4 linked regions of the Homo sapiens genome follow. The protein of the gene in region 2 interacts with the protein of the main gene of each other region in a pairwise test. Each region holds a gene or a part of one and is shown on either strand. Other genes may lie near its edges.

Evidence for each region.
Region 1: the proteins of MTIF3 (region 2) and CDS2 interact in binary tests that used the Homo sapiens proteins (3 or more experiments, as listed by UniProt).
Region 3: the proteins of MTIF3 (region 2) and CABP7 interact in binary tests that used the Homo sapiens proteins (3 or more experiments, as listed by UniProt).
Region 4: the proteins of MTIF3 (region 2) and STX6 interact in binary tests that used the Homo sapiens proteins (3 or more experiments, as listed by UniProt).

The regions. Positions count from the first base shown.
Region 1 is NC_000020.11:5,172,006-5,179,030, forward strand, and holds part of CDS2 (phosphatidate cytidylyltransferase 2), read left to right. Parts: intron 1-1,517; coding exon 1,518-1,654; intron 1,655-3,177; coding exon 3,178-3,274; intron 3,275-4,642; coding exon 4,643-4,740; intron 4,741-6,811; coding exon 6,812-6,951; intron 6,952-7,025. UniProt on the Homo sapiens protein: Catalyzes the conversion of phosphatidic acid (PA) to CDP-diacylglycerol (CDP-DAG), an essential intermediate in the synthesis of phosphatidylglycerol, cardiolipin and phosphatidylinositol.
Region 2 is NC_000013.11:27,440,557-27,447,581, forward strand, and holds part of MTIF3 (translation initiation factor IF-3, mitochondrial), read right to left. Parts: intron 4,601-7,025; 5' UTR 4,532-4,600; intron 687-4,531; exon of another isoform or gene 461-686; intron 1-460. UniProt on the Homo sapiens protein: IF-3 binds to the 28S ribosomal subunit and shifts the equilibrium between 55S ribosomes and their 39S and 28S subunits in favor of the free subunits, thus enhancing the availability of 28S subunits on which protein synthesis initiation begins.
Region 3 is NC_000022.11:29,716,040-29,723,027, reverse strand, and holds the start of CABP7 (calcium-binding protein 7), read right to left. Parts: upstream 3,026-6,988; 5' UTR 2,604-3,025; coding exon 2,495-2,603; intron 1-2,494. UniProt on the Homo sapiens protein: Negatively regulates Golgi-to-plasma membrane trafficking by interacting with PI4KB and inhibiting its activity.
Region 4 is NC_000001.11:180,998,868-181,005,892, forward strand, and holds part of STX6 (syntaxin-6), read right to left. Parts: intron 6,597-7,025; coding exon 6,427-6,596; intron 3,834-6,426; coding exon 3,739-3,833; intron 1-3,738. UniProt on the Homo sapiens protein: SNARE promoting movement of transport vesicles to target membranes. Targets endosomes to the trans-Golgi network, and may therefore function in retrograde trafficking.

The sequences.
Region 1 (7,025 bases), on a different chromosome or scaffold from region 2:
ATCTGCACTAGTTAAGGCCCTCTGTCTTGTCACAGTTGTAAATTAATTTAGAAAGAGCTGTCTCCCTGAGGGCAGGGGCTGGGTTTTTCTTTACACACCTGGACCTAATTCTTCTCTTCTTCCATCCATTAGTAAGTGTTTTGCTGTGTGCCGTGCATGGGGATAATGAGAACAAGAAGTTATGTTCTTGTCTTTAAGGAGTTTGTCGTCAGCCAAGGAGACATTTACAAAAGTCCCCGTTGTGGTCAGCGCTGAGAGGGAGAAGGTTCTAGTGTTAAGAGAGCAAATCACTGGGGTGTCTAACCTCGCCTGAGGTGAAGGTGGGGGTTAGAGCAGTCTGAGAGAACATATTAGTAACACAAAGTACTCAAATCTGGAGCACATAAACCACTACAAATCAATAAAAAAAGGAAGGCAGAAAACTCCGTAGAAAAACTAGCCAGTGATTTGACAGACACTTGACAGAAGATACCAAGTGGCCAGTGAACATGTGAGACAGTCACAATTCCGTGTATTCATCAGTCATCAGGGAAGTCAGAGGACCTGGGTTAATATGAGACATTGGGCCACGCATTGAACTTCCCAGATCCCGTTTCTTATTTGTAAATGGGGCTTCTCCTGTCCCTTCCCTTCCTCCCAGTACTGCTCTGAAGCTTGCATGGGAAAGGCTCTTCAGACCTTGCAGGGCTATACAGATACTAAGTAGTGTTGTTACTCTAAGTGATTTACTTTCTCCTCCACCTCTTCTCATAGCAACTATTCTGAATTCCCCTATGAAAGAAAATACTTGAGTGGTAGGATGGTTCCTAGGATTCAGAATAGCCTGTCCCTTGATACTTTGGGTAAAGAGCTTGCTGCTGGCATGGCTCTGGTTCCCTCACCCAGGCTGGGAGCAGGGTGACTTCCTGTGGGTCTTTTGTCACCCAGGGCCTGGTGGCAGGGAAAGGACTGAGGTGCACCAGTCCTGGCTCGAGCGTTGTCTGGAGTAGGCTGTCTGGTTCGTTGTCCACACTGACTGTGATTGACCTCCTCACAGAGTGCTCTAGTGAAGTCCGGAAATAACACTCTGGACTTGGGACATGTTGACATTAACAGGTCTACAGGGGCAACAGCCTCACCACCTGGCTTCCCCTGAGAGAGCCTGGTCAGTGCCATTGGCTGCCCTAGCAGGCTCAGGGATAACCTCCTGTTAAAACCGGTCCCAGCCTCCCTTTTGCATTCTTTGGATACAAAGGAGCCATGTTCTCTCTCTTTTGGATCTGCCCTCTGCGGTTAAGCAGATGGTACGCGGTGCAGATGCACACCTCTCTTCCAGCAGAGTGTGGCTGGCCACCTTGGCACATGTCACAACAGTGTCAGGATTGCTGCTAGTCCTGTCAGTCCCATCACCTGACTGTGCCAGGTTCTTAGGCCCTGTTTGGAGTCTTTCCCCACAGATCTCTCATGACAGGCATAGACTTCTCAATGGTCTACTCGGCACTTTTGACCTTTTTCTCTTCTGTATTTCTGCCACTTAGGAGTCAGAGTCAGAAGCAAAGGTAGATGGAGAGACTGCATCGGACAGTGAGAGCCGGGCAGAATCCGCACCCCTGCCAGTCTCTGCAGATGATACCCCGGAGGTCCTCAATAGGGCCCTTTCCAACTTGTCTTCAAGGTAACCTGGCTTAATGATGCAGGTGCTTGTTGGGGGCTTTGCACCATGTCCAAGTGCCCTGGAAGAGCCTGCAGAGAGCCCGTGGTCTTGCAGAGCAGGCCCGCTGTCTTGCCTCAGCCTCCCATGCCACTGCTCCAGGCTCCATTGAGTGTAATCTAGTGCTTAGCAGTGGCAGTGAGCACAGTGACCAGGAGGGGAGGGCAACCAAGGCTGGAAGGATCTGGCCCCGGAAGGGTGCTTCAGACTGGACTAGGAAGTGCAGTTCAAAGAGGAAGAGGGGACAGGAGGGATGGAGGTGGGTGAGGTCAGCTGACACTGCACAGCACAGGAAACCAGCCTTGGGTTTGCGATTAATGGGCAGGCTGCTTTTCACTGAGGAGTCCACGTTTCCAGTTCAGAGTTTAGTTTCTCTCACATCCTTTGTGAACAGTTCCTTAAATTCTCCAGGAAGAACTGGGAAACATCTTAACCTAGGTGAATCTAGTGTTAAAACTTTTGGCCCTTGAGAACCTGGTTCTTTTAACACAGCTATGTGAGTAGATCAAAAACACATTATAAGACCCCAAAGCATTATCTCAGTGTTCCTATGTGTGCCTCCAACTGTCCCCTTGGGAGTCTGAATTGTGCAGTGGTTAAGGGCGTGGACTTTGCAGCCAGACCCTTGGATTCAGATCCCAGCTTTACTGTTTGCCAGCTGTTTGACCTGTGCCTCCATTTCCTCATCTGTAAAAGCGAAGTGTGTTGAGGATTGAAGGAGTTAATATATGTAAAGTCCTCATAAAATTACCTTACTCAGGCCGGGTATGGTGGCTCACGCCTGTAATTCCAGCACTTTGGGAGGCCGAGGCGGGTGGATCAGGAGGTCAGGAGATCGAGACCATGGTGAAACCCCGTCTCTACTAAAAATACAAAAAAATTAGCTGGGTGTGGTGGCAGGCGCCTGTAGTCCCAGCTACTCGGGAGGCTGAGGCAAGAGAATGGCATGAACCTGGGCGGAGCTTGCAGTGAGCTGAGATTGTGCCACTGCACTCCAACCTGGGCTACAGAGGAAACTCTGTCTCAAAAAAAAAAAAAAAATTATGCATATTTATGGTAGCTGTTATTATCATTGCATAATGTTACTATTATTCCCATAATTATTCAGGGCAGTGCAGTGTAGGATCCTGCTGCTGGAAAAAAATATTTTTTTCTTCAGATAGTCAGCTGTAGAAACCATCCAAGTGGATACAGAAGCAGAGGGCACTACATTTCCCTTGGTTTTTTTGTTTGTTTGTGTTTTGCCTGATACCTTCTTTAAGATATAAGCTAGGTTTATTTTTTGCCAAGTTTGGTTGTGACTTAGGCATTGGTACTAGTGGTCCTGCTCCTGCCAGCATGTGGCTGGTGCCTCCGTCACGGTGAATCTGGAAAGGACTGAGCTCAGGGCCCTCATCTCAGGAAGATCCATATCCCTTGAGTTTGTGCATTGGTTTTTTTCTGGGCTCCTAACTGGTGTTTTCTCCTTCCCCTGCTCTCTGACCTAGATGGAAGAACTGGTGGGTGAGAGGCATCCTGACTTTGGCCATGATTGCATTTTTCTTCATCATCATTTACCTGGGACCAATGGTTTTGATGATAATCGTAAGTGCCATTTCACACTATTTTAGTTTTCCCTTCAGTTTTTGCTGCAGGCCCGGTTGTCTTAAGTGCGAGGTGTTGGGTTGGTTGTGGGAATTGACGGGGGTCCAGGCTTCTCAGAAAACCTCTGCCATAGAACATCTGTGACTTCCCACTTCTCAGTAGCCACCTGGAGGGTCATTGGTGTAGGCTGGTTGTTTATGGTTGAAGATGTCTCAGTGTCTTTTCTTTTAAAAAACTGACTTTATTGCCTGTGATCCCAGCACTTTGTGAGGCTGAGGTGGGCGGATCACGAGGTCAGGAGTTTGAGACCAGCCTGACCAACATGGTGAAACCCTGTCTCTACTAAAAATACAAAAATTAGCCACGCGTGGTGGCACGCGCCTGTAATCCCAGCTACTCAGGGGGCTGAGGCAGGAGAATCCCTTGAACCTGGGAGGCAGAGGTTGCAGTGAGCCGAGATCATGCCACTGCACTCCAGCCTGGGTGACAGAGTGAGACTCCATCTCAAAACAAACAAACAAACAAACAAAACTGACTTTATTATTCCAACTCTGTAAACTTTTACCCTGGGCATGTCTCTATATGACTCCTGGTTTCGTTTCCTGTTTTCCTGGGGCCTCCCTTCTGGGCTTAGAGCTTTTGTTAAGGAAATCCCAGTCCACAGAGCTGCTCTGTCTGTCTTCCCACTGTCCTGGACAGGGTCAGGTGACCATCAGCTGCATGTGAGCAAAGCATTTGACTTTGAATACTTGAGACTTTTCAAGTATTCAGAGTCAAAAGGAGAATGGATTGGTTGAATCCTGGGAGGTTCTAGAATAAAAAGTTAAAAAGGAGGTTTTAGAATAAAGTTAATTGAGGGTCAGGCATGGCGGCTCACGCCTATAATCCCAGCACTTTGAGAGGCCAAGGCGGGAGGATCACTTGAGCCCAGGAGTTCGAGACCAGCCTGGGAAAGAAGGTGAAACCTCGTCTCTACTTAAAAAAAAAATCCTTTTGGCTGGGTGCGGTGGCTCACGCCTGTAATCCTAGCACTTTTGGAGGCTGAGGCAGGTGGATTGCTTGAGCCCAGGAGTTCAAGACCAGCCTGGGCAACACGGTGAAACCCTGTCTTAAAAAAAAAAAAGTTAATTGAAACATCAGGGTGTGTATTTTATTGTGAGTGGAAAATTGGATCTACTCCCTGTGACATAGAGGGCTGCATTGCTCTGTGGGATGGTATGAGAGAGGAAGAAGGAGGGAAGCAGAACCACTGGAGGCCCGATATTTTTCTTAAGTATAATGGGTTTTCTGGAAGGCTCATGACCTGTTGGTTTCCATTTCCAAAAATCATAAGAATTGGGGTGTCAGTGAATGTTTTGTGTCCCGCAGGTGATGTGCGTTCAGATTAAGTGTTTCCATGAGATAATCACTATTGGCTACAACGTCTACCACTCATATGATCTGCCCTGGTTCAGGACGCTCAGCTGGTAAGCTCTCCGGCCCCACAGAGGCTTTTAGAATTTGGATGATGTGCTTTGTGGCAGGTACTTACAGTGACGGTGGGTATTTCTATCACTTGCTATAGAGATAAATGCTGGAGAGGCAGTTATCATGTTAGGTCATACAAAGTTTCATGAAGAAAATGGTATTTGAGCAATAAGTGAAGAAATGGGTAAGAGAATGTTAGGAGAATGTTAAGAGAAAGTTAAGAGAAAAAGGCAGGAGAAAAGAGGTGATTGCCACAGACTCGCACAGTGCCTTTGAGACCTGAGTATTTCATAGGCCAGACTGTGTGGTTGGCCTTGCAGGAGTCTTATAGTTACTTGAAGTCTGGAATCTTCCTGAGAAGAAACCAGATGGGCTGCATTCTGTGACTGTGTTTGCCTCGCTATTTGGATTCCTTAAACTCTGCATGATGATCCCGTTTTTCTAGATCAGTATATTTTTCATGCCGTCATATCTCAGCATCCCACTAGAGTTGTCTGGAAGTTGTTAGGTTCTGCTGCCGGCTTTGCTTGTTATCCTTGGAACTTGGTTTCCTTATCTCTAAGACAGATGGTTGAGACTTACTGGTTTCCAGACTGTGGTGTTTGAGCCCTACTTCATCAGAGGTGTTTTGAGTGCCAGAGTGGGCAGGAGTGAGGCTGAATGCATGGGATCTGGGCTCCGCTGGGAAAGTTGGCTTTCTCCGTTTCCTGGGAAAGGATTCAGCTTTCTTAAAGCAAAAAGAAAAACCTGTAACACATGTCTGAGACCCCTTTCTGATCTGAAACTCTGCTTTATTGGCCGTAGTATTCTCAGGTGGTGACTTTTGAGCAGAGCACTGCACCATGCTGAGAGGACCTGGGGCAAATGTGGACCTTCTCACCCCACTGTGCAGGGATACAGGGGTTGAAGCCATGACTTAGCCGGCTGGAGAGCAGTGGTTTTTGCCCCAGCAACCTGGTCACTGTCAAGGAAGCCGATGTGCTCAGATGTAGGCTGGGCACCCCCTTCCTGAGGTGTTTCCTGTCACCCAACAGACAGGCTGCCTCCCAGCCTCCAGATGGAATTGGGATTGCCACCTGGCTTAAGATGCAGGTCCCTTTTGTGGCTGTTCTTTAGCTGGAAAGCAGTGTTTTGCATTTTGTTAACATACTCAGGAGGCCTGACTCCTGGCTGTGGTCACTTTACAAAGAAAGTTTTTTCCATGTAACAGAAAAGAAACCCAATATGGGAGTTTTTGTACTTCATAATTTAAAAAAAAGAATGGGAAAGAAAAGCTCTCCACTTTCTTCTCTATCTCAGGATCCTTGCTGGGGGTTTGCAGTGATGGCTGCATGGTGCCATACTCAGCAGTACTGTGGAGGCTGCAAGGGATGGCTTCTCTTCTCATGAACGCCAGTTGAGGAGAGAGAATACACAAGTGAAGAGTTAACGCTAATGGAAGGTCTGTTTGTCAGAGCCAGGCTTCAGAGAGGCAGATGCATCATTAATTGCTTAGTCAGATAATCACATATTACTTGCTATAGAAATAAATGCAGGGGAGGCAGATGTCATGTTAGGTCATGCAAAGTTTTATGAATAAAATGGCATTTGAGCAAGGAGTGAAGAAATGGAGAAGCAAAGAGAATGTCAGGAGCAGGAAAAAGGCAGGAGAACAGCAGACAGGTGTGGCAAAGCCGGAAGAAACCATTTTGATAGGAGTGAAGGAGTTCCTGTTGGGAAGAGTGGAAACGAGACTGGGGAAGCAGGATGAGGCGTGTTTTTGAAGGTCATATGGTTCAAGGATCCCTCAGTTAGGTATGGGAATGCTACAAAAGGGGCAAAAACGGAGTCTCAAGTTTGGGAGAAATGGAGAGTGAATGAAAGCTGCTGTCTGTTTCTAGATAAATTTCTCACCTACGGTGTCACCAGAGAGCAGGAAACCATGGTCTGCCTGTTGCTCTGTGAGCTGTCCCGGGGGACTCAAGGGTGGGGGGTATTCTGCTGCCCTCTGTCCCTTCCTCTGGGATGTCTGACTGCCTTGCTGTGAAGGCAAGGGTGCTCCCCACGGCAATGACCTGTCTTCATTTACAGGTACTTTCTCCTGTGTGTAAACTATTTCTTCTATGGTGAGACAGTGACGGATTACTTCTTCACCCTGGTCCAGAGAGAAGAGCCTTTGCGGATTCTCAGTAAATACCACCGGTTCATTTCCTTTACTCTCTATCTAATAGGTATGCATTAAGCAGTTCACCATTTCTTGTGTCTGTATTGTTTTTGTATGTCTGTCAGGTAGGAATTGGGGAAT
Region 2 (7,025 bases):
AAGTGTGAGGGAAATGCTGTTCTCTAGACTTTCAGATCCACACACAGGAAGTCTACACTGATAAAGCGGACTAGCAGGTGACTCTGGCCAGACTAACTCATGGTGATACTGTCCCCAAGACAAGTGGCTATTAGAATAAACCAGATTTACATAGCATTTTGGTTTCACTTTTTTTTTTTTTCTGTACACATGATCTCATTTGACTACTTAGTTGACCCCTGAACAACTTGGGAGTTAGGGAAACAGACCCCCTGTGCAGTTGAAAATCTGTGTATAACTTTGACTCCTCAAAAACTTACTAATAGCTTACTGTTGACTGAAAGCCTTATGAATAACATAAGCAGTTGATTAACACATATTTTGTATGCCATATGTATTATATACTGTATTCTTACAATACAGCAAGCTAGAGAAAAGAAATGTCATTAAGAAAATCATAAAGAAGAGAAAATATATTTACTATTAAGTGGAAGTGGATCACCATAAAGGTCTTCATCCTCATTGTCTTCACATCAAGTAGGCTGAGGAGGAGGAGCAAGAGGAGGGGTTGGTCTTCTCTCAGGGGTGGCAAAGGTGGAGGAAAATCCACATATATGTGGACCCCATGCAGTTCAAACCTGTGTTGTTCTAGGATCAACTGTATTTCTCATGCATCTTGTAGTGCCAACTCCAAAAGCGAGTGTCATCTTAGGGCTTTATTTATGAGGATGCAGTACATAAAATGCTTGGTGATTCATAAACACCAATTGATAAACTTCTAATATAATTAACTGTTAACAATTTTTCAATACATCTGATGGTATATAGCAGATAGGAACACACTATGGGAAAGGGACCTCTCCAGGAAGGAAGCCAGCCCACTGCAAGAATAACTGAGCCTGTCAGAAAACACTGTGACATAAATCAAAGTGCTAACCTCATAAACTATAAAGATCATTCTCAAGGTAAGGCAGGTGTTAATTACTACCAAATGTTAACAGAGGCATGTATGGTGACAGTGGTTTTACTTCATGGTTATGAGACTGAATTTGAAGCACTTACAAATGGCACATTGATTTTTTAATTGCTTTTCTGTCCTTCCATTCATGTATTTGGTAAATCTTAGAAGTACAGGCTGAAAGAGTGCTGAGAGGACCCATTCATCTCATCTAGGGCATGCTAGGAATCATTAGAGAATCACAAACTTGGAGAGGTGTGACTTGTCAAAGATGAAAGAGGAAAACAGAAGGTGTCTTCAGGGTGCTTCTCAAAGAATGGTCCCAGAATCTCCTGGGGTGTTTAAAACTGGAAGTTCCCTCTGGTCCCTGGCTTTGAGCCCACTGGGCTGTACAACCCACTTATCTCTCACCTGTCATGTTCAAGAGTGATATGCAAAAAAATATGGTAAATTCAACAGAAAGTGATGGACATGCATATTCTCAACACCCTCCTTACCTAGTTTGGTAACACCCAACACTCTAATTTATAGCTCTGGTGCCAGTCTCTTCTCTTGAGTTCCACACCTGTAGGGTTAACCGCCTACCCAACCTCTCCACTTAGATATGTAATAGTCATTGAGGATTAACGTGTTCAAAGTTCAATGCTTTGCCTTCCATGCAAAACTTGCTCCTCCCTCAGTCTTCCCTGTCTCATGTAATTGCAACACATTCTTCTGGTTGCTCAGGCCAAAAATACCAACGTTATCCTTGACTCTTTATTTTCTCTCAGCAACCCATCCGCAAAACCTACCGTTCAACCAGTATAACCACTTCTCACCTTCTCTACTGCTATCATCCCACTCCCAAACCGCCGCGCCGCTCAACTGCATCACAGTAAAACCGCATCACAGTAACAGCTTCCCGACTGCTCTTCCTGCCTCTGCCCTCACAGCCTGGAGTTTATTACTGCTAGGGCACACAGAGCAATCCTTAAAAATGCGTAAGTCAGATCACGTTCCTCCTCTGCCCACACCCTCCCCTGGCTAGTATCTCACTCCAAGTAAAAGCTAAGCTCTCTACCATGCCCACTGGCCTGTGCCGACCGTACTTCTTCTGGCTCACTCTGTTCCAGCCTCCTTGCTGTTCCTTGTGAACAGTGAACACACCCCTCCTCTGGGTCCTGGCACCCAGAAGTTCTCTCTCCCTGCAACACTCTTCCCTCAGATAGCCTCATGGTTCATTTACCTCGTCTCTGCTCAAACGCTACCTACTCAGCGAGCCCTTCCCTGACCCTTCCATAAAAGAGCACACCCCAACACTCTCAAACCCATTACCTTGCCTTTTAAAAACTTTACTGCATTCATCACTGCTGGACACATTCTATATTTATTTGCATATATGTTCATAATCTTTCCTCACTGGAATGAAAGCTTCATGAGAACATGGACTTTGTCCATTTTGTTCACTGCTGTGTTCCCCGGCACTACAGCTCAGAGCCTGGCTCAGCATGCACATGTCGAATGAATGCACGGGCCGAAGGAAACAGCCAAGGAGCTATGGCAGGGCTGCTGGCATTTAACCTCTACACCTTCGGATGTGTCACGAATGCCTACAAACTACACCCTTCACATTTCTAGCTGGCATTTCAGATGCCCGTCAGTAATGGTGAGTATCTGTGGCCAGATGCTCCATCCACAGTGTATGACATGCATTGATTTATGGTTATTACCCAGCTGGTGGCTCCAGCTGTAGATGCTGTAAAGGCTCTAAGGTGGGAGCAAAGTGATTTTAAATCACTGACATACTGTTTAATAAAAAGTCAGATCTTTTGTGAATGGAGGAAGCCCCCAAACCAAAAAAGAAGAAAAATCTGAAAAGATCACAGAAGATTTTTTTTTCACTTATCAGAAAACTAGCAGCAGCATCCAGTCCCAAATGTCACTAGGTATTCTGCTAGGGGACTCTTAAGTTCCTGCTCACAAGCCTGCTCTATAAACTTTATGTCTAAAATCAGTGTTGTTTCTTTCCAAAGTCTGTATTAGCGACAATGATGTAGAAGTTATCACATGTAAAATCATGTTACTAAATAGATAGATATAAATTCTAATATTCTTGATATATACAGTAGACAAAACAGTTCACTGCAATTAAGCTTTAATACTAACTCAGTACTGGCTATCTTTTTCCCTTAGTAGTTATGAATAAGAGCTAAAGTGCCTTGTTTAATAAATTATCAACATATTAAAATATAAAAAATTTCAAAATTTGATTTTTTTCAAACAAGCAAACAAAATAACTAGATATAGGAAAAGATGAAAAAAATTTATAAAAATGTTGAAGACAAAAGCAATTCATTCCCCTATTTTTCCTAATTGCCAGTATTTCTCAAGTTTTTTTATAAGTGTTATTTTTATACTTGAAAATAAATTTTATTTACAAAATAAAGACTATTTCAGAAAAATGACGTAGGTTTTTTAAAAAAGCTTTAAAAACACTTTCCAAGAAGGAAACAAAGGAAAGGGAAAGAATAGAAAAACACTGGAAGTAGGGCCGGGTGCAGTGGCTCACGCCTGTAACCCCAGCACTTTGGGAGGCTGAGGTGGGCGGATCACAAGGTCAGGAGATCGAGACCATCCTGGCTAACACAGTGAAACCCTGTCTCTACTAAAAAATAAAATAAAAATTAGCTGGGCGTGGTGGCGGGCGCCTGTAGTCCCGGCTACTCGGGAGGCTGAGGCAGGAGAATGGCGTGAACCCGGGAGGCGGAGCTAGCAGTGAGCGAGATTGCGCCACTGCACTCCAGCCTGGGCGACAGAGCGAGACTCTGTCTCAAAAAAAACGAAAAAAAAAAGAAAAACACTGGAAGTATATAACTTTTAAAGTTCTTTGCCACTAGTTTAAATTTTTAAGAAACTTCAATTTTTATTGATGTATACAGCAAACAATGCAATTCATTGCAATTAAGCTTTAATACTAACTCAATACTGGCTTTAAATCAGCAAAATTGAAAATATACGTTTCTTCAAAACAGGCCCTTATAGATAAAAATATAAATACAAAGTTAAAACAACCTGTAATATTACATTTAAATTGCAGCTATCAACATAAATTCATAATTTAAAAACTTTTTATTAGGGAACTTTTTAACCTTGTACAGAAAGAACTGGATAATAAACAGCAGCTGGGTTTCATCTTTACCCCTCAACTATCTCCCCCCAACCATCCAGGAATGCTTTCAAAGTAAATCCTACTTTTTCAGGAAATAGTATGTATCTCTAAGAGGTACTCCTTAATCTTTTTAGTATTCACAATATTATCCCAATTAAAAAACGTTCCTTTATTTCATCAAATATTTAGCTTTCAGATTTCCATGATGGTATTATGATTTTGTTTGTTTACATGTCATTTACAGTTTGGCAGCATGAAGAGACTCCCACTGGTCAATTTTGGTGTAATTTAAACAGTAAGGCATAATCACTGTCATTCATTTCAATATACTGAATATACAAAAATCTATGAAAATGATAATTTGCCACAACTGCATGGGACTATTATATTGATTTTTTACTTTGAAAATTGCTAATTAAATAAAAAGAACTGAGCATTTATCCTACCTTTTTTAGGAAGAACTGTAATCATCCCCAGTTGATGAGGAGAAGCTCTTCTGTAGAGAAGAATGACAGCTAATAAACACAAAAGAAAAGTAAAAGTAATTAGAAAATCATGCCACGCACGATGTCTCACACCTGTAATCCCAGCACTTTGGGAGGCCAAGGCGAGAGGATCACTTAAGGCCAGGAGTTTGAGACCAGCCCGGGACACACAGCAAGACCCAGTCTCTACAAAAAATAAATTAGCCAGGTGTGTTGACACGCAACTGTACTCCCAGCTACTGGGGAGGCTGAGGAAGGAGGTTCACTTGAGCCCAGGAGGTTGAGGCTGCAGTGAGCTCTGATCACACCACTGCACTCCAGTCTGGACAACAGAGCAAGACCCTGTTTCAAAAAAAAAAAAAGAAAATCACCATTTTTCCAACCCCAACGAAACTACTGATTCAGGCAGGATGCAAGAGAGCTGATGCCAAAGGGTCACAAACAGATTACTTTCAGACTGAGAGGGAAAAGCACACTCTGCTGAGGGTAGACAGCTGTCTGTCATCCTAAGCCAACGTCAGACTCAGCATCTCCAACAGTGGAACAACCTGCCATCCTTGCCACATCTCTGGATGGGAAGCTACCCAAAGTGCATGGCACCTTCTATTAAGCAGCTTTGCCAAAAAGGTTTGACCTGAACCTGATGCAGGGTCTAGCTTCCAGTTTCCAGGGGATACAAGGGCCAGACTCAGAGAAACAATAGAAGATGCCACAAGGAAACAATCTGACAAATCCAGATGGAACAAGACACCTGGTTAGTGTCTAAAAAAGCCAATGCCATTGGGAATGAAAAGGGAAGAGGGAAGCTATTCTTGAGTGAAAAAAAAAATCAAGGAGACATAATTTTGCTGAAAAGAAATGTTGGGAATGAGGGGAAAATCTGAATAGGGACTAGGTATTAGATACTATTAGAGACGTATTGTTAATTTTCTTTTTTCTTTTTTTTTTGAGACAGGTTCTCACTCTGTCACCCAGACTGGAGTGCAGTGGGGCAATCTCGGCTCACTGCAACCTCCGCCTCCCAGGTTCAAGTGATTCTCCTGCTTCAGCCTCCCAAGTAGCCGGGATTACAGGTGTGCACCACTACCGCCTGGCTAATTTTTGTATTTTTAGTAGAGATGGGGTTTTACCATGTTGGCCAGGCTGGTCTCGATCTCCTGACCTCAAATGATCCACCTGCCTTGGCCTCCTGAAGTGTTGGGATTACGGGCGTGAGCCACGGCACCCGCCTGTTAATTTTCTTAGGTGTGAAAATGGAATTCTTAAGAAACAAATGCTGAAGTATTTAGGATAGTGTCATGACATCTATCACTTGCTTTGAAACCATACAGCAGAAAATATAAACAATGCACTTACGGCAGCATTTGCTAAATCTAGGTTATGGTTATACGGGTGTTCAATAATTAATACATTTTTAAAGAACAAATCAATAGCCTAGAGGGAGGAATGGTTCACTGGTAATGCCAATGTAACTATTCTAGTCTGTGTAAGTTCTAAATTTCACTGTAATTTAATACATTGACATTCTGGCTTTGTACATAATTTTAAAAAATATTCCCTTTATTCGTTTCAAGCCTATATCTAAGTGACCCATAAATAAGGAACTTTATAAACTTAAAATTCTGATTTTTTTGTAATGCATAGTGCCTTTATTTCTTCATTTAGTTTTCCTTAAACTCAGGTCTAAAAGTCTCATCATAAATGGTGATGGGGGCGGATGGGAAGGAGGCTGGCATAAAAAAAGTACACATTAGGTACAATGTATACGATTCGGGTGATGGTGCACTAAAATCTCAGAATTCACCACTATATAATTCGTCCATGTAATGAAAAACCACTTGCAGTCCAAAAGCTACTGAAATAAAAATTTTAGAAGAATAAAACAAATGGTGATGGTTTCAGTTTGAGGCAGAACTTGTACAATTTTTTGCTAGTGAACGGTTAAAAGTTAACTGGTCTACAATGGGGTGGTGTTTCTCAGAAACCACGGCCTGTCGGCATCACCTGGGGATGCTTTTCAAAACACAGATGTTTCCTCTTCCCTATCCTGTTCAGAACCAGTGGGTTAGGCCAAAAAAAAAAAAAAAAAGATGAACTTTAAGAAAAAGAGTAAGAAAACACTATAAGTGGGGTCAAGGGTAGTTTGAGCTAGGATGCCTGAGACTACCCCTAACCTTTCAAAGTTGAATAAAAATAGGAAGCCATGTTCTCTGATGAAAATCTCTGATGCCTCTGTGAGGTAAACAACACTAGGCTGAAGAGGCCAGGAGACTAACTCAAAATAGAAACAAACGCTTACGTTCTTATGATAATCCTGTTGCATTTGCTGCACTCACTCCCACAACTATACTCTCCGAGACAGCCACAATATTCTAAAAACCAATTATCTTAATGTCAATTACTTATAATGCATAACTTTATAGTATGATATCCATTTTTAATTCGATGATTACTC
Region 3 (6,988 bases), on a different chromosome or scaffold from region 2:
GGCTCAGAGAGGTGAGCGATTGCCCAAGGTCACTCCATGAGCTGAAGGTGCAGAGACTCAAACCCAGCGCCGCCTGGCTGGGAAGCCCTCATCTTAACTCTGTGCTTCCCACCTCCCTGCCTGGTCCTCCTTTCCGCTCAGACTGACCGCCCCCTGGATTTCTGCGGCAGGCACGTACTGTCTGCAGCATTCCATCCCGGGCTGCCCAGCTCCCTCTTCCTGGCACATGTGGCTCCTCCGCGAATGGCGTCCTCCCGGCAGAGGGCCTGGGTCTCGCCCAGACCGCCCTGGGGCAGGAGCACTCATGAGGCCCTGCAGAGGCGGAGAGGGCAGAGGGGGATCCGTGCCAGGAATGGCCAGCCCTGGCATTCAAGGACTGCTGAAAGGGACCTGGGGCCGCCAGAGGGCTTTTAGGGCACCTGCAGCCAAGAAGGGGGCTGGTCATGGAAAACTTCTTGCCTTCATCTGTAGCTGCCCACTGGGCCAGAGATGAGCTGGGACCACCCAGGCATCTGTCTACTCCATGACCCCACCTGCCCATCCCAGGGAGGGCCCTGCCCTTCAGATGCCCCCTGAGTCAGGGCCCCTCAGCTCCCCAGGGCCCAGGAGAAGGGGACAGGAGAGAAGCGGGGAGGGCACTTGTTGTGGCTGGTGACTAACGCAGCTGGGCTCCTGCCAGCACGCCATGTCGTTGGTTGGGGAGCCTGCGGCCTTGCCCCTGCACTGCCCACCCTGCGGCCCCTCGCCCCTGCAGCCAGCCTCTCAGCCTCTCCCCTTCCTCAGGGAGTGCACTCCAGGACTGGGGATCAGGAGAGGAGGGACCCAGAAAGGGCTGGAGTTGGGGTGGTGGGGTCCTGGTGGGGGTGCTGGGAGCAAGGGGAGGGAGTGAAGCGGAAGCTGCCTGGGGTCTGGGAGACATGGTGACTCCTGCTTGGATGGTCAGGAGGAGGGGATGGATGAGGGCCTCTGGAGGGAAAAATCTGCAGGAGGTTTGAGGTGGCCCAGGGCCGGAGGGGACAAAGGTGGGGAGGAGAAGGCCTATGCTCCATCTCCTGACCTTTCGCCCCCCACCATCGTACCCCTCCTTTCCCCGGGCTCTGGAGGAGGCTCTGGCCCTGGGTTTTAGGGGTGAATGGTGAGGTCATGTCGGGGGGCCCCAATCATCCATCTGTCCTGTCCGCATCAGACCCCAGACCCTGTCTCCACAGCTCTCCCCGCTTCTGAGGGTTTGCAGGGGCAGTTGGTGAGGAGCCTGGTGGCTCATGCCTATGGTGCAGTGAGCGAGGCAGAGGCTGCCTTCTCTCTCTGGATCTTCCCCCGACCCATTCTGACTCCTCTAAGATCTGCCCTCACCCTGGGCCTGGGTTGAGGGAGGACCTCCCTCCATGGCTTCCCCTGGGCTCCCACCATCCTCCCTGACTGTGCTGGTCTTGGCTGCACCCTCCCAGGCCCTAATGAGCCTCCAGATCTCAGAGACCCCTGGATCCAAGGTACCCCGAGAGGCCCATCCTCTGGGTGAGCTCAGCCCCTTGCAACAGCAGACATGCAGATCCCAGGAGGCCGTGACCCCCATCAGCCCAGATCCCCCACTCCACTCCATATGGGGGCTCCAGGAGGTCTGGGGGGAGGGGAAACCTCAGCACCTCCCCCAGCCCAGCAGGGAAGGAGCTGGGCGGGCCCCAGGGGTCTCACTGCTCCTCAGGACACACTGTCCCGGACCCCTGCCCCTGCCCTCTGCTCTGACCTCGCCCAGCCAGCGGCCTGCCATCCCCCTGCGAGTCTGAGAGGCAGGGGGAACGGGGTGGGGGCGGGTTTGGGTCCTGGCCTCTCTGCCTTTCCCTTCCAGGCTTGGCTATCGCGACTTAGCCGCCCAGTCCGGCCACTTGTTGTCGCCACCGCCTCCCGGGCCGCCTTCCCGGCGCGCCGGGCTGGGGGTCCCCGCAGGGCTGCAGGGAAGGGGCTACGGCCGCAGGTGGGGACGGGGGCGGCCCCGCAGCGGGCAAGAGCAGGGCAGTCGCCCTCTCCCCTTCTGCTGCTGCCCGAGCAGATTGAATTTTTAAAGCGACACGAGCGGAATGTCAATGCGAGCAGAGAGCCGCGGGCGGGCGCCGCGGAGGGGATCAGGATGCGGGTGCTCCGGCCGGGCCGGCGCTGGGGGCTCAGCGCGGACCCCCGCCCCAGTCCGCCGCGTTGCCGCACCGTCACCGCCGACTGCGCGGCCCCGTGACCCCGCTGCGGGGCCCGGCAAGTTTCCGCAGCGCTGGGGACCACGCGGGCAGGGGCTGGGCCGCTCTCCGCCTGAGCGACCCCCACCGCGGCGCCCCGGGGTGCGGACAGGTCTTGCCGCGGGGCACAGCTGCTAGCTGGGGCGCCCACCTGGCAACCGGCACCTGCGGACCGCCCCCCGCCCCCCGCCCCCGCGCCCCTGGCCCGCGCTTCACCTGGGCGCACAGGTAGGAGGGCCGCCGGGGCGGGGATCCCGGCGGACACTCACCCTCCAGCTCGTCCTCCGGGATGTCCACCGGGCGCTGCTCCGACAGCAGGTTGGGCACGGTGTAGATGCCCCGGTACATCAACGCCGCCGTCACCGGGTGGAACGGCATCTTGGAGGCTCCGCGCCCGCCCGCCCGCCGCAAACTTTGAGGCCGGGGCTCATGGGCCGGTGGCGGCCCCGGGGGCGGCTGGAGCGGGCGGGGCGCGCGGCTGCGGAGGGCGGCGGCGGCAGCGGCGAGGCTGGGGACGCCCCTCCGGGGGCCTAGCGCCCCCGCGCCCCGGGCCGCCGGGCCATGCCGCCCGCTCCCTCGTCGGGCTCCCAGCCGGGGCCCCGCAGGGGCAGCGGGGGCGGCGCCGCTCTGGCCTTTCCGAGAGCTCCGGCTGCCTCGCGCGGTGCCCGCCGCGCCCGCTCCTCGGTGCCCCGCGCGCTCCGCGCTGCTCGCCGCCCGCTAGTCCGCTCGCCGGCGCGGCCGCTACCGGCCCGGCGCTCAGGCTGTAGCCGCCTCTCCGCTCGCTCGCTCGCTCGTTCTGTGCCGCGCTGGCTGCGCTCCCCGCCTCCCCCGCCAGCCGCCCGCCCGCCCCCTCCGCGCTCCCCACCCCCAGCCCGCCCCTTCCCGCCGCCGGCCCCTGAGCGGCCGCCCCAAACCTGCCCGGGGCTCCTTCTCCCCTTCGGCCCCGATTCCCCTTTCCCACTAGGGCTCCCCTCTGTTCACTGGCTCTCCTCACCCTAAGTCTGCAGCCACCAGGACCAGGGAGGGGGTGGGTTGCGGGGGTCCTCCTTCCTGCCCCTTGGCTCACCTTCCCCCATCCACGCACCAGGAGCGGAGAGCCCGGAACTAAGAACTGTAGACCCAGAGAGGTGAGACTGGCCCCAAGCACCTGGGTCCTCAAGAAGAGTCACCGTTTCCGTGCCAGGAGGATCCAAGGTGGGGAAACTGAGGCTGAGAGAGAAGGACGTTGACCAAGGTCACAGGGCAGGAGCAGCAGGTAAGAGCTGGGTACACGTCTGGGGTAGGCTTCCTGCCCTGCCTGTGACTGACACCCTGCCGCTGACCTTGCTCCCCACAATGGGGCCCCAGTCCCGGACCCTTCCCAAGCCCCTACCTTTCAGCTTGCAGAAGAGGAGCCAAAGTGTCTCATGGCCCCCAGGGCAGTTCGGGACAGAGACATGGCCCGGTGCCTGTGGGGTCTGGTGTGAGGGCCTGCCAGTTCACATGGCTGCAGCTCAGACCTAATGTATGTGCAGGGCTTCCCCAGGCCCCAGGGCACGTCGGCACCCCAGAGCTGGGGTGGGGGCAGGTGTTTGAGGGAGCAGCCTGCGTGTGCATATGTCTGCTATCCATGAGGGTGTGTATGTGCCACTGGGCACGTGCGCAGGTGTCTGTGACTCCATATGCAGATGGACAAATGTCGGGAGTGTGTGGCCACCTGTGTGTGCCAAGGTTGTACGCTGGCAGGTCGGGGGAGGTGTGCAGGCCCTGGGGCTGGGAGTGGTGTGGGCATATGGTGCACAGATGTGCATGGGAGGGGGTGACCTTCTGGCCTGGCTGTGGCCCCATCTCTGGGTGCTTCCCTGAATCCCCCTACTGGGACCACCTCCCTGCCCCCTTTGGCCCAATCAGCTAAAGGTCCCAGCAGGAACGCTGATTGCACAGCCCTGCCCGGTCCTGCCCTGCCCTTCCCAAGCTGATTACACTTTTCTGCTTGTTTCTGTTTTTGTTACTGATTAATCGCAGCCTTGTCTCAGGGTCTGGGGAGAAGGGGCTCAGTGAGAGATGCTAGCCCCAGCCAAGCGGGGTTGGGTCAGCCTGGGCCCAGCACTTCCTGGGCCCTGCTCTGGAGGGAGCTCCTAGAAACATCTATAACCTGCGGAGGAGCCAGGAAGGACACCAGCTGTCTGTCTGTCTCCCCAGACCTCTCCGGGCTAGCTGGTTGCCCACTGGGACCTGGGCCTGGAGGTGAGAGAGGCCCCAGAAAAGCTCCCACCCCACTCCAAAGCTCTCCTTGCCCACCTGTCCCATCTTCTGACCTTCCACCGCTAGAGCTGAATGCCTTGAGCTTCCCCAGTGTTTTTGATGGAGCAGAGACTTGAGGAAGTAAGAACCCAGCACCAAGAGCCAGGCAGACTGGGGCTTCTGCATCCACCATCTCCTCACCATGGAACTACAGTCAGGTCCCTTAACCGGCCATAGCCTCAGTTTCCCTGCCTGTTAAGGTGGCAGTGCCACATCCCAGGCAGCGGTGAGGATGAAGTGACATAATGTAGGAAAGGTGCCGGGCATCACCTCCCTGAAACTCTTGGGAGTTTCCTATTAGCATGAACATCCCCCCCAAGGAATAGGAATTAATAATAATTATAGCTTCGAGTATTGATTGAGAGAGCGAGCCGCAGCAGCAGCTCAGTCGTTCCACGTTTACTAAGTGTCCAGGCTGTGCCAGCCCAGGCCTGTCAGTTCTAAATCAGAACCCCTGGGCCAAGGGAGAGTGGGCTAGAGCCTGCTGAGAGGCTGGCAGGAAACCCAGCTCCCAGTGACTCCCTGGGAGGCCGCTGCAGAGCGTGTTGGTACTCGCCCTGTGAAGGGGAAGCTCCTGGGCTTGCTGTCCAGGTGGGTATTTTTTTTTATTTTTTTAGGTGGAGTCTTTCTCTGTTGCCCAGGCTGGATTGCAGTGGCATGATCTCGGCTCACTGCAACCTCCGCCTCCCAGGTTCAAGTTATTCTCATGCCTCAGCCTCCCGAATAGCTGGGACTACAGGCACATGCCATCACACCCAGCTAATTTTTGTATTTTTCGTAGAGAACATGTTGGCCAGGCTGGTCACAAACTCCTGACCTCAAGTGATCTACCCGCCTTGGCCTACTAAAGTGCTGGGATTACAGGCGTGAGGCACCACTCCCAACCCATGGTGGCTTTTTTTTTTTCAAGTCAAGGGAATTCCAGGGGTCAAGAGGAGGGTGGGCAAAAGCTCAGAAGTGTGAGAGGGCCTCTCTTAGCTCTGAAGGGCAGGTCTGGGTCTGGGTTCTCCAGATCTCCTACGCTTGGCACAGGACTGGAATGGGCTAAGGTGGCTGGGGCTGGATGAACATCTGTCAAATGAATGAACGAGAGAATTAGTGAATGAACGACTGCCCGCTCACCACCGCCCCCCGCCCTTCGGCATTGCAGCCCCGTCCTCTCCTCTGTGCGTCACGGGGGAGCAGATGGCATGATCACAGGGTGTGAATTATGTCTGTCGCTCCCCCATCTGGGGAAGGTGCTGCTGCCATCACACTGCACTCTCTGGGGTGCCCACCGGGAGATGCCTGAGCCTCAGGTCCTCCCAAGAGGGGTTCTCCACAGGCCTTGCTAACTAATCATTGGGTCAGGAGGCTAGAGACACTGGGAGAGGTGACACGCTGAAACCTGTGATTCCAGGGGGGTTCCCCAAGTGGGAAGGAGACAAGGGGAGAGAGGTGGGAACTGCCATGTTCAGAGGCCAGACTCTTCCCTCCCTGAGACTGGAGCCCACTCCTTTCAAGAGCAGCACAGTCCCTGCCCTCCCTGGCCAGAGACCTCTTGTCCGAGGCCAGCATCCTCTTGCCACATTCAGCACCAGGGAGAGCTCCCAGCAGAGCTCAGGGCCCAGCTGTGTAGAGTGAAGCTGTGGAGGGACCCACAAGAGCCGGCCAAGGCTATCAATGAACCCATTGTCCAAACGAGGAAATCAAAGTGAAGAGGGTGTAAGCTTCAAGTTCAAGATCATGCTGGGACCAATAATTGCAGCCCTACCCAAGCCAGGGCTCCTGCTGGGGGAGAAGGTACTGGAGGAGGGGAGGTAGTGGTGGTAGGGAGGGGATGTCCAGGGAGGGCAGAGGCTATGGCCTCTGCTCCTAGGCTGAGGAACAATATTGTTCCAAGAACGCACTGGGGACAGTGTCTGGAGGTGAATAAAATATTCATTGTCCGGGCAAACTCCCGAAGTCAACTAATGAATAATGGAATTTATAGACTCAAAGATGCACACCGGGCTGAGAGGGGGTGCAGGCCAGAACCCAGAGGCCCCAACTGCTCAGATCCCTGCTCTTCTCTGGCTACCCCCCTCTGAACGCCCACATGCCCAGCTCTTGAAGGTGACAGGAGCGGAAAGGACAACAGGGAACAGAGTCCATGTGAGGGAAACAGAGTGAAGGGGACAGGCCCTTGAATTTGTTGCTATTGGGGGAAGGAACTTGGTGATGGGAAAAGAGCACTGGACTCGGAGTCCAGTGCAGCTGGGATGAAGTCTGACCCCTGCTACCAGCTCTATGACTTGAGTGTAGCCCCTGCCCTGGTCTCAGTTTTCGTCCCTGTAAAATGGAGTTTATGCTGCCACCACACAGCTTGCTGCAGGGATCTGCTGAGGTGACAGTGCTTGGTGCTGCTGTCCGAGGCTGGACCTTCTGAGCCTCCCTCTCAGGCTCAGGGCCCAGCTGCGGAGGGTGAAGCTATGGAGGGACCTAGGAGAGCTGGCCAAGGC
Region 4 (7,025 bases), on a different chromosome or scaffold from region 2:
GCAGTCAAGCAACAAGTCCCAATAAAATATGGTTCATCTGCCAAAGGAACAACAAATGTCCTGGTTATTTATGCTTCTGTTCCCATTTCACACTGTCTTCCAAGCTGAATGAATGAGACATCATAAACCCCAGTGCTTCCCACTCATAATTCTTACATTTCAAGGTCATCTGTGCTCACACTGGATACTTCACCCTTTTTGATTAACCAAAGCCATTTCCATCTTGACTTACAATTGACTGTAAACAATTCTTACATTGGAGCAGGTTCGGTTTTTTCATGGAGAGGGTAATAGTTCTAACTTTTAAAGTCAGAGAATGTTAGTGAGGATTATTTCATAGATAAAACTGAGATCCAGGGAGGTTGAATGACTTACCATGGTTAAGATTTATTAAGGTCACAGCTTAGCCTAGAACTCAGGTTCCCTTACCCCTTATATTCACCATTATTCTGCCATATACTGCAAAACCTCTTGATCCTAAAGTAAAACCAAAGTCACTTCTAGGATATATTTCTAAAACACAAAAATTTCACATGTGGAATCTTTGATGTATAGGTGACTCCACAAGAGTAAAAATGATTACCTCAAAAATATGAAAGCTATTTACACAAAAATGTGAGTATTTTGGTTCTTCACTAAAAACTGCCAGCAAAACTGGATTTGTACAGACTTAAAAGATGCTTGGAAAAACATACACAAAACTCTAAACAAGGAAAGCTTACTAAAGGCATAACCAATGGACATTAATCAAGAAGAAACAGGCGATTTACTTCTTCAGGTTGAAGCAAATAAAGAAAAAAAAAACCACAAAATGCATAGAGTATCACTGACTCCCCTGCCTACAAAAGAGAAAGCATAAGTAGAATACACTGTTTGAAAGATAAAGTCAATCAAAATTTTGGAGCAATATTAAATGAAAGCCCACTAGTAATAGTAACAGAAGAACTAACATAAATTTGTACAAATTCCTAATTTGAACTTCATTTCATCTCATTTTCCAAATCTGCTAACCCTCTGCTCCCTCTCTATCGAGCTCTTCCACCCAGAACCCAGAAATCTCTACATACAAACACTGTTTAGCTAAATGTGGTAATGTGGAATTATACAAGGTATATTTTATTTTTAATCGAGTTAGCACCATTGCTATTTCCTCCTCTTCTATAGGACTTTCAACTAGAATTTATTACAATCAGATCAGCAAAAGCTCAGTTAGGTACTGTTAGCCTACCACTGGTAAATACTAACAGCTTCCCCCAAAGGGGTCATAAATTTAAACAAGAATGATTTAAAACCCTAAAATATTCAGGTGGATCACATAGTTGAGTATGGTTTAGATCTCAACTCTAAAAGGACAGTAAGATTTTGAAGTACTGACTTGATTTGGAATACCTCTCATTACTCTGTTCTCACATTGCTATAAAGAACTGCCCGAGACTGGGTAATTTATAAGAGAAAGAGGTTTAATTGACTCACAGTTCAGCATGGCTGGGGAAGCCTCAGGAAACTTACAATCATGGCAGAAGGAGAAGCAAGGCAACTTCTTCACAAGGCAGCAGGGAAGAGTGACAGAGCAAAGTGGGAAGAGCCCCTTATAAAACCATCAGCTATCATGAGACTCACTCACTATCATGAGAACAGCATGTGGGAAACTGCCCCCATGATTCAATTACCTCCACCTGGTCTCTCCTTTGACACATGGGGATTATGGGGATTACAATTCAAGATGAGATTTTGGGTGGGGAAACAGCTAAATCATATCAACCTCTTTCTAAGAATGTACTTTAAAAAGCTTTTCAGATATTAGAAAATGAACTTTGGATTCTTCTTTCCATTATACCAATGAACTTAATTTTTAATATACGAACCTCTAAATTTCAATTTGCAAACTTCCTAAGTCTACCTTGCAGAAATAAATATAATGATTAAGGTTAAGGACATATGCTTCACTGCAAGGCCCCACTTAAATATTAACGTCTATAGGAGTATCCTTCAAAAAACCTACTACTACAAAAAAAAAAAAAAAAAAGCTTATACAAAATAATTGGGGATTTACTTATCTTACAAAAAATATGTCACCTAACAACAAGGCTTCCTCATCAGAACAGTATTTTGAACTGGCTAGAAATTAAGAATGTCCAATCCAAACACTCACTGTGGATGGGGCATCTGAGGTCCAGAAAGGTTTCTCCCTCATTAAAATGTGGGTTTATCTATAAACAATTTACGTATATGTATATAGAAAGGCAACTAATGAATAAAACAAGTAACAAGAATATATAAAGTTCAGTGATAATCTACCATTTGAAATAATTTCAAAAGGAAATCACATGATATAAAGACTTTGGCAAACACAAACTAAGGTTCCTGCCTAAGATGACTCTTAAAAAGCCGTATGTTAGCACTGGTATGATCCCAAGTCTTTTTATTCAAGGAAGCTGCTTTCTAGTACATATGTTAAAGACAGCTGGTTCTCTTACATCTAGTTATGCTAATCAAATGGCTTAGCCATATAGTTTCAAAATATGAAACATTTTAATGACACAAGATTGTACTTAATATTTTTTCTCAGATTCTTTAATAATGGGTATTATTCTAAATAACTTAGAACTAAAGATTTGTTCACTTGGATCAATTTTTTACACTCTGATAGATGCTTGTTTGCTCTGGATAACTCTGGAACGGCTGTCAAGTAGTTACATATGGAAATGTCAGTATCTTGGGTTGCAAGAGTTCCAGAAGCAATTCAGATGGCGGAAGAGGCCGCTATCCAAACCCACTAAGAGTCACTCTTCAACAATGCGAAGTGATTACCAATCAATCAAAAAACCAAATGGTTTCTACAATAGCAATTGTTTTGTTCGTCAAGAAATAGAGTACACTAAGAAATAAAAAGTGAGAAAGATAACTAGCTTGAAGAAACTAGAGGTATGGACAAGGGTCTAATCATTCAGGATGACACCATTTGAATGTACCCTGCCCAAAGCCAGCAGATTACTGTCTCATTTTTGCTCTCGGAAATAAGCCTGACAGGCTGGGCATGGTGGCTCACGCCAGTAATCCCAGTACTTTGAGAGGCTGAGGCAGGCAAACTACTTGAGTTCAGGAGTTCAAGACCAGCCTGAGCAACATGGTGAACCCTGTCTCTACAAAAAATTAGCCTGGTGTGGTGGTGCACGCCTGTAGTCCCAGCTATTTGGGAGGCAGAGGTTGTAGTCAGCCAAGATCATGCCACTACATTTCAGCCTGGTCAACACAGTGAGACCTTGTGTCAAAAAAAGAAAGATTAAAAACAGATTTCTTTTTCTTCAATCACGGAAATTTTTTTTTTTTTTTAAGGTACAGTGACGTGATCATAGCTCTCAGCCTCAACCTGATCCTCCCACCTCAGCCTCCCATCTTGGTCTTCCATGTAGTTGAGACAACAGGTGTGCACCACCATGCCCAGCTAATTTTTATATTTTTTTTTTGTAGAGACAGGGTTTCATCATGTTGCCCGGACTGGTTTCAAACCCCTGGGCTCAAGTGATCCACCCACCTCCACCTCCCAAAGTGCTGAGATTACAGGCATGAGCCACCATGCGCAGCCAATCAGAGAAATTATATATGGGGAAGCTCACATTTAATTCATATTTAAAAAGTGGTTTCAGAGGTGACCTATTAGTTTACAATTAAGGGAAAGAGCTCTAAGAAGTCTGGCTATTTCTTATACAGATAACACAATAAGATCATATTCCTTACCCTGACAACTTGCCGAGTACTTGTAATGAAGGCTTTTCTTATACTCAATTCAGTTGCATCAAGGTTAAATTTTCTAGGATTTGCTTCAACTATGCGTAGGTCAAAAAGTCAAGGTAAAACAATTTCATCATCAAAGCCTGACAACATCCTGTTAACTCACTGAATCTCTCACATGCAAACAAATAAAATCTGGCTCAAACTTTCTGAAAACACAGTCAGCTGGACACCAATCATTCTCAGACTTCCTCTGCCCACAGCCACAGGAGGGAGGATCCCTTTGCTCCAAGACAGAGATGATCTGTCTGGTTAGGAAGCATAGCCCCTGCTGATGAGCTTCACTGCAAACACTTAGGGCTATCTGACCACAGGTGAGCTGGGCTCTTCCTGTTTGCCAACACTTGTGTCTATCCTTTTTTGACTCCTGATCACCTTTACTAAGACAGCTTTTGCAAGCCTTTTTCTCCTGCCATTCCAAACCACTTCCCATTATGCCAAGATGCTAACCCTACTTCTTAATCTAGAGAGATCGGGCCTTCTTCAGAGAAGCTGCCCTCATTCCCTTACCCTCTAGCCTGGTCCGACGCACCATGTCAGACACTTGCATAGCTCTCTATACTTCTCGTTCATAGTCTGCAGGTATCTATTTGTGTTATTACTTGATTACCATCTGTCCCCCATCCCTATCCACTCAAAGTTCTGTGAGGGCTGGTATAGTGTTTATTAATCTAATCTCTGTAACCAACAAAATGCCTGGCACATAGTATACTCAATAAACACTTGCTGGTTGAATGATGAGTATCTATTAAAACTTTTGTTTTTTTAATCTCACATTTTCTCTATCTCCCCTAACTTTTTTTCCTTCCCTCCTTTCTCAAGGGAAGAATTATCTCCCTGTAACTGTGCTTTTGATCCTGCCCCCTCACATATTTGCCACTAATTTTAGAGAACATACTTGCCTTTTAATAATGTAAAAGGTACCAGGGTCATCATGAATAACAAAAATTATTTACTCCATGTATCAACTGCATACGAACCTGTGCTAACTATAAGGTGATCCTGACAGAAGCTGGTTTCCTTATGTTTTATCTCACTTAGGGAAAAAACAAAACAGAACTCAGAACATGCAAGTGGCATATCTTCCATCTAAAGTTTTGGTTAAGTGGGATTTCCAGTTGGAAAAAAAGGCTATATAATGAAGTTTTTACAGTTCTCCAGTGCATGAGTCAGATCAGTGGACTTACTTCACATCAATACCATGAATTAGCAGAGCAGATCTGCTTTTACTAAATGCAGTTTCATGGAACAAGACATCTCTTCAATGGACGGTAGCACTGTAACATCACTTCTTAAACATGAAGACAGTCTACAAAAAGATTTTTTGATCTCTAATTACCGAAGTGTAACACTGGCCTGTATGGACCTCTATATGATAATGACTGCTAACACTATTACATAAGCTGTGTGCCAGGTGCCATTCTAAACTCTTTACCTGTATAATCCCAATAATCCTATGAGCTAGGTACTCTTGTTATCCTAACTTTCCACTAAAGAGGAAACGGAAGCACAGGAGGTTAAGTGATGAGCCCAAGTCACATGGTAACTGGTTGTGATACTGTAATAAATGCAAATTCGGTCTCTGCCCCCTCATTTCTGGCACACAGCTCCTTGATCCCTTGGAATCTCCAGATGAGTATCTTTTGTATGTTAATGGGATAATTGATGGCTGGGGGTTTCTAGATAGCCTCAGGACGAGGGGCTGGTCCCCAGAGAAACCAACCATGTGATTAGACAGTTGAAGCTTTCAGCCCCCTGCTTAACCCCACCCCAGGGGAAAGGGGCTGAAGGCTGAGCTGATCACCAATGGCCAACTGATGTGATCAATCATGCCTGCGAAATGAATCCTCCACAAACACCAAAAGGACAGAGTTCAGGAAGCTTCCAGATAGGTGAACATGTGGAGGTTCCTGGAGGCACCTGAAGAGGGCCTGGAAGTGCTGCACCTTTTCTCCCATACCTTGCATGCATCTCTTCCATCTGGTCATTCATCTGTATCCTTTGTAATATCCTTTACAACAAATGGATAAACCTAAGGAAACTGTTTCCCGGAGTTCTGTGAGCTGCTCTTGCAAATTAAATTAATTCGATCTATGGAGGGGGTCGTGGGAACTCCAATTTATACGTGGTCAGTTGGAAGCGCTGGTCACAACCTAGGGCTTGCAACTGGCATCTGAAGTGGGGGCAGTCTTGTGGGACTGAGCTCTTAACCTGTGGACCTGATGCTATCTCCAAGTAGACAGTGTCAGAAATATCATACTGACTTGAGTGTGAGGGTAGAGACTTAAAAAAAAAAGAAAAAAAGGGTTTTTTTTTTTTCCCTTTACATTGGTGGAGGCAGGACTTGAACACCAGAAATCTGACTCCAGGGTCCACAGTCATAATCATTACACTATGCTGCCTTTATATATATATATACATTTATAGTACAGGATTTGTCACACACTGTATAAGAATTTGGCTACTGTACCTTAAGTTACTGGGCAAATACTTTAAACATGTCATGGTACAAGTAAGAGCAACAAACATTAATCGATTATAAAATGTTTCATCTACATACTGGAAACAACTGGAGAAAAACTTGTCCATTTGTCTATTTATCCCGAATGGCACAGACACCACAGAAAAGGATATTGATGGTTTCATCAAGGTCCTCTAGATCCCACTCTATGCTCCGGAGGTTATTTCTCAGCTCGTTGGTGGTCCAGTCGATTTCTTCCCTTGTTGCTGTGGAGGGGTCCTGGAGGAGCTCTGTCCATCTCTGAAACAATCCCTGGGCAGTGTTGACTGCTTTCTGTACCTCTCTGTAATCAAGATGAGGCAAAGGAGAGAAATCACAGACAACATTCCATGGTCAAGTTACTGCATGATTTAGGTTAACATTTATGATCATACACCATCCTCAGCAACCACCATTCCCACAGAAGGCTCTTCACAGACAAATATCAAAGTTCAAAACTTTGATACACAGTCTGAGTATTATGTTCTCAGCTGATGCTTGGAATACAATAGCCATTATTTAAGCAGCTACAATATCAAGTTTGTTGGGGAAGGACAAATTTAATATTTTTCTCTGAACAGACTATACGTAAAAGTATAATGAAGCAATCCTACAAATTAACTAAAGGGCAATGAGCATTCCCACATGCTTCCACTTGGTGTGACAGTATTAATAATTTATACTCAGATGATAAGTCCTAATATGGCCTTTCTTTTCTTGGTGTGGGAGGAAT